2 separate regions of the Homo sapiens genome follow, and region 1 is linked to region 2. Evidence: fine-mapped expression QTL. A gene starts in region 2. The other region holds a variant in brackets. All regions are shown on one strand. Distances are between the middles of the regions. Region 1 has its middle 7.8 kb from the start of LBH. Region 2 holds the start of YPEL5 (yippee like 5).

Evidence for each region. PIP is the estimated chance that this variant, and not a neighbour inherited with it, causes the effect. A credible set is the group of variants that fine-mapping cannot tell apart.
Region 1: its variant is the best candidate, but not a certain one, in a credible set for the expression of YPEL5 in whole blood (TOPMed, PIP 0.61).

The regions. Positions count from the first base shown.
Region 1 is chr2:30,222,271-30,225,171 of GRCh38, forward strand. No RefSeq gene overlaps it. Among named protein-coding and RNA genes, the nearest start is that of LBH, 7.8 kb to the right of the region's middle. RefSeq lists a silencer at 1,505-1,564 and an enhancer at 2,085-2,154. The variant G/A (reference allele first, on the strand shown) is at 1,432.
Region 2 is chr2:30,145,413-30,148,313 of GRCh38, forward strand. YPEL5 (yippee like 5) reads left to right here and starts at 1,595. Exons shown (of 3, transcript NM_016061.3): 1 at 1,595-1,650. RefSeq lists silencers at 1,199-1,778, 1,809-1,978, 2,269-2,708.

The DNA.
Region 1 (2,901 bases), 77 kb after region 2:
AAACTGAGCCCCAATAAGTGAAAGGAATTGGTGGTTCTCTTATTAAGAATGCCTGCAGCATCATATCTGGTGTGTAATCCATTTACTTTCTTCTTTTTAAATAGAGAAATTACTAAGCATTGTGGAGGCTTAGGGTCCTGGAGATGAAGGCAGTAAAATGAGACTAATGCTGGTGAGGGTGTATGAAGGGGCCCTCTCTAGGGTGGAAGTGGAAGCCAAGTGGGTCAGCACTTTTATTGGTACAACCTGCAACCATCCCAGATAAAATAATCAGGTGGCTAGGAGTGGGGAAGGTCCCCCCTACCCCTGGGAAGACTCAAACACACAGAACATTCTAGCTTTTTGCAGTAATAATATCATGGACATTAAAGAAGAAGATCAGAAAACAGCTTCAGATGCATCACCTTCTGTCTTTCTGGTGCTCCTTTCTAAGAGGAGGCCTGGATGAGAATGCACAAGAAAGCCAGGCACTCACTCAGGAGAGTGCAAGCCAAGGTTCCTACCTGGCTGTGCCTCTGAATTCACCCACCCAGGGCCCTTGGTGAGGGTGGGAGGTGTGGTGGCCAGTTGCCCCGCCATCTTCAGTAGCTGGGGGCAGTAGGGCCACTGGCTCTGCCTGAGGCCAAAACGTGCCACACTGGCTGCTCACTGGGCTCTGAAACCCTGCATGTAAGCTACCCCGAGGCCTCACCAAGCGTGTGGAAATGTCTTTCTGCTGTCATTACTTGTCCTGGCTTTTGCTCAGACTCACACAGGACTTACACCCCTGGGCAGGGATGCTGAGTGCCCGGGTCCCCTTAGTCTAAAGCTCTGTCCCTTGGAAGGAAGGAAGGAAGGAAGGAAGGAAGGAAGGAAGGAAGGAAGGAAGGAAGGGAGGGAGGAAGGAAAGAAGGAAGGAAGGGAGGAAGGAAAGAAATGGTATGCCCAGATCTTTTTTCCCCTCTTCTGAGTTAAACAGCTCAAGTGCTATGATCATATTAGATCTAGGGACAAGAATTCCAATCAGATCCCTCCAGAAGGACTGTGATGGACAAGGAAAGTCACCTCATACTGTGCCCACTGGATGCACCCACCCCAGCCCTTCCAGGTGGTTCCCCCTCTCTCTCTCATCATGACATGGTTTCCCCCTGGGCTTCAACCATCAACCATCAATTTGCCTCCAGGACCAGAGACTTTCCTGTCACCCACTTACCCTGTCTGCAGTGCCACCATGAAACTGAGGCCTTTGAGGTGCTGCCTGCATGTCATTCTCACAATAGTGTGAATTCATTTGTCAGATCAAGTTCTCTTGCCTGGCAGCTGCCTTGGCTTAGAGAGCTGCAGGATGGAAGTTTCAGTGGAAAAGCAAAGAGTGGTTTTGGAGCTTGGGAGGCTGTTATGAAGGGAGTGTGGGGCTTCCTGAGTTCAGTGGGTGCCTGGGGCGCATTGAAG[G/A]GAAGTGTGAAACAAGAGGGGTTAGAAAGGGGAAGTCTCAAAAGACAAATTTCACATACATGAAATTTGACCTACTTAACACTTCTGCTGAGGCCCCACCTGGCTGGAAGAGAAACGCTGATATTAACTCGAATAACATAGAGGTGAAGGAACCTGGACTGATTTGGCTAATGGAAGTAACAGACTTTTCTTTCTGCTAGAAATTGTGTGCACAGTCCCTTCCGCAGAGCATGAGGCCTTTTACTCACAAATAGTTATTCCCTTCAGCATGTAGACTTGGAGTCATGGGAGTGCCTCTCCCAAGGTCTGGAATAGATAATGCTGCTGCCCACCCCTAGTTCCTGGGACACACCTGGCCCTTTCTGACCCCTACACCTTTGCTGATGTTGTTCTGCTGGCAGGATCGCCCTTCTCTAGCTTCTCCCCATCCTTTGAGGCCAGCTCAGTTGCCATCCCTTCCCTTTAGCTATTCCTGCTACCATTCTTTCCACAGATATTCCCTGAGTGCCTGCTAGATTCCAGGCACTCTTCTGGTGGTGGTGACACAGTAAGACACAAAACAGACCTACTCCTTGCCCTTGAGAGCTTCCCTTCTGCCAGTCAGCCCCCCTCTCCCAGTGCCTTTGCCTGGGACTGAACTAATCATATCCCCACCCATGCTCACATGAGTCTACTGCAGCAGTTATTGTATGATATTAGAGGGAGTGGCAACTAGGTTCCCAGACACCCCAGTGCCCAACACCTTGCCAACACCAGAGGTAGACTCTCACTTCTTTAAAAAAGAAACTCAGGGGTAGCAATTTGCATAGGAAGGGCAGAGGCTAGGAGACTTACCTGCAAAATGCACTTGCTAGCATGTGTGACCGTTCTACTTAGTTTTGTGTTTGTTTGTTTTTGTTTTTGTTTTTTTTTTTGAGACAGTTTTGCTCCGTTGCCCAGGCTGGAGTGCAATGGTGCGATCTCAGCTCACTGCAACCTCTGCCTCCCGGGTTGAAGCGATTCTCCCTGCCTCAGCCTCCCAGAGTAGCTGGGATTACAGGCACCCAACACCACGCCTGGCTAAGTTTTGTATTTTTAGTAGAGATGGGGTTTCACCATGTTGGCCAGGCTGATCTCGAACTCCTGACCTCAGGTGATCCGCCCACCTCTGCCTCCCAAAGTGCTGGGATTACAGGCGTGAGCCACCGTGCGCGGCCTTAGTTTTGTGATTCTTTGAGGGGATCATTAATGCAGTTTAGGGAATTTGTCTTACAGGTGCAGTGACCTTGCAGGCATAATACCATCACACAGACTGTGGTTATCTGGGATGGTTACAGGGAGTTATGGAGACAGGAGAAAACTAAACGTCTCCTAAACCGATTCTTTGGAAATGCCAGCACCTGTCTGGCACACAGTGGGTGCTAATGCCTGTTAGAATTGTTGTTGAGAGGGCAGGAGGGTGTAACATGGACCCAGCTATCTGATCCTGAG
Region 2 (2,901 bases):
AATAGAAAGGAAAATAAACTAAAATACTGTATGTTTAAAACTTCTGGCCAGGCACAGTGGCTCATGCCTGTAATCCCAGCACTTCAGGAGGCCGAGGCGGGCGGATCACGAGGTCAGGAGTTCGAGACCAACCTGGCCAATATGGTGAAACCCCGTCTCTACTAAAAATACAAAAATTAGCCGGGCGTGGTGGTGTGCGCCTGTAATTCCAGCTACTCAGGAGGCAGAGGCAGGAGAATTGCTTGAACCCGGGAGGCGGAGGTTGCAGTGAGCCAAGATCATGCCACTGCACTCGAGCCTGGGCGACAGAGCAAGACTCCGTCTGAAACAAACAAACAAAAAAACTTATCTCCTGGAAAACTCACTTATTAAAAGATAACTAGTCCTTTTGCCTTTGATGCTCAGGTAAACTTCAGACGAACTAAATGAAAATACTTGTGGATTTGGGGATGAGCGGGAGTCAAGTGCTAGAATTTGCTTAGCAGCTTCTCTTCCACCAATAATGACTTTAAACATGTTGCAAACTAGCCCCAAATGCTAACCTACATTTTTAATCTGAGAGGTATGCGTCATCAAATATTTTGGTTTTATCCCGAAAGTCAGCTAACAGAGATGTAAGTACCTGGGCAACTCTAATGGAATGAGAAGCAACATCTTCCATCTTAAGCATTGATAAGGGTTAAGGGAACAGCTGCTCTTTGCAATGAACAAATCTCACTCTCTGAGGCAGAAATTCGCCATATAGAAGACTGAATTTCTTCATCTTTTTGAGAATCATTTCCACTACCCAGAAAAAACATTCAAATGAGTTGTAAATAAAGTCAAGCGCAGTTGAAAAATCCTGTATCCACAGATGTTTCTTAGGAGTGCCTATGCGCTTAGACTCGAGGGCTAGGGGTTTGAAAGCAAAAGGCAGCCCTCTACCAGGGGTGGTCGGGGAAACGGCCTCCAAGAAACGAATTACACGGTGCACTTTAGTTACCTAGGCAGCTGTTTGTCTAGGAAACAGCTTATTGTTTTCATTTGTCATCACCGCGGCTCACTAGGTATCAGGAAGCTCGGCTCCAGCCGCTACCTGGTGACGCTAATGACGTGCGATGTCTCGCAGCTGCCGCAATTAGACAGGCCAAGCCTTCGCCTTTAAGAAGCTGACTCACGTGGATGCTGTGTTGTGTGCGCTCAGCTGAAAGGGGGAGGTGGGTCCCCAGACTGACTACATTGGCCGCCTCGAGAGAAGGGGCAGAGTTAGCCTCTTTGATTGGCTGTACGAGTCCGAGGTGCTGGGTCAGGGGCGGGGCGAGCTGTCGCAAGCCTGCCCTGGGTCTGCGGCTTCTGAGAGGGGTGGGCCGCGAAGCGGAGGGGTGCGGGAGTGGGGGAGGGTGAGCCAGAGAAGGGGCGGGGCCCCGCGAAAAAGGCAGGAGGCCGAGGACAGGGGCGGGGCCTAGAAATAAAGGGCGTTCTGGGCCAACCGGGAGAGCTGACTGCGGGGGGGCGGAGCCACGCCGGGTGACTGACGTTGAGGCCCAACCAGGGAGAGGCGGGGCCAAGGCCAGGGCCTGACTAAACCTGGAGACTCGGGTGGCCGAGGGGCTTCATACCAGCTGAAGAGCGACAAGCCGCTGGCAGCCGCGGATCTCACCGCCGCTCAGGGTGAGTCCCGCGGGAGGGGCTGGACTCGGGGCCGGTGGGGACTGAGGCGCCCGTTCGGGTCGGGCGGCTTCGAGGCACTCGGGAATCGGCCCAGGGTGGGGGGCCCAGGCAGGAAGTGCCTCTTCCTCGCCGCGCTCTTCCCGGGGTCCCAGAGCGGCCGCCCCAGATCCTTCAGGGTGGGCCCCGGCGCTGGGACCGCGGGCGGACGCGCGGGGCTGTTTGCTCTTTGTGAGGCCTGGCGCGGCGGCCGCCGTCGGCCCGCCCCCGCCGCGCAGCCGGGCGACCGGTGCGACAACAGCCGCAACCCCTCCGCGCGGCGCCCGCGCCTCCGCCCCGTTTCCCCGTCGCGTCCTCCGAGGCCCGCCGCCGAGGCCCACGGCGCCCCCTGGGCGGACGGTCTGGCCGCGACCCCCAACCCGCCGCGCCGCGCCGCGGCTGCCCCGCCCCCACCCGTCGCATAGTCGGGGGCGCGCCCGGTCTCCGCCCCGAATCCAAGTCGGAACTTGACCGAGTTGTTTGGGCCGCGATGACCGCACGGCGTGAACCGTCCTGAGCAGGGCCCACGCCCGGCCCAAGCGGCCCAGCCACCGGGCTGGGGCGGTGTCTCCCTTTGCCCCCTCCCCCCCATGAACGTCCGCCTCCCCCGCCCTCCTGCCCAGAGGACCCGGGACTGACAGCGCAGGGTGACGGTTGGGCAGCCCGCCGGGTGTCGGGACCAAGAGAGCCCCCCGGCCACCCGCTCAGCTGTTTCCTGCTCGTGTTTGTTGTGCCGAGGGAGGCCCCGCCGCCACCGCCGCCGCCGCGCTCTGCCGCCCCGGTCCCTCCCGATTGGCCGGCTGGCGTCACGTGGCCTCCATCAGCTGGGCCGGCGGGGGCGCTCGCGGGCCCCACTGCGGCTGCCGGGTGAGCCCACCCGGGGGTCGCCCGGGCCGGCCCAGCTCCGCCAGCTTCGGGCTGCGGCCTTCCCTCCGCTTGCAGTCGGGAGGGTGGGCGTGCCCTTGCAACCCCTTTCCTGTACCTTCTCTGCAGGTAGATGGGACAAATGAGTGTCCGGATCAGCGGGAGTGGGAAATTGAAATACTACAAAGATCTGTTTAATCCTGATACCAACTAATCTCCCTTTCAAGGGAGAGTCTGGGAAGCTGTACAGCTCATTTATTTTTAAACTTTTTCTGTTTACAGAGATCTGTTGGTAATCTGAGGATTTTTATTCTACGTCGTCTTGACAGATGGAAAACCTGAAGTAACTTC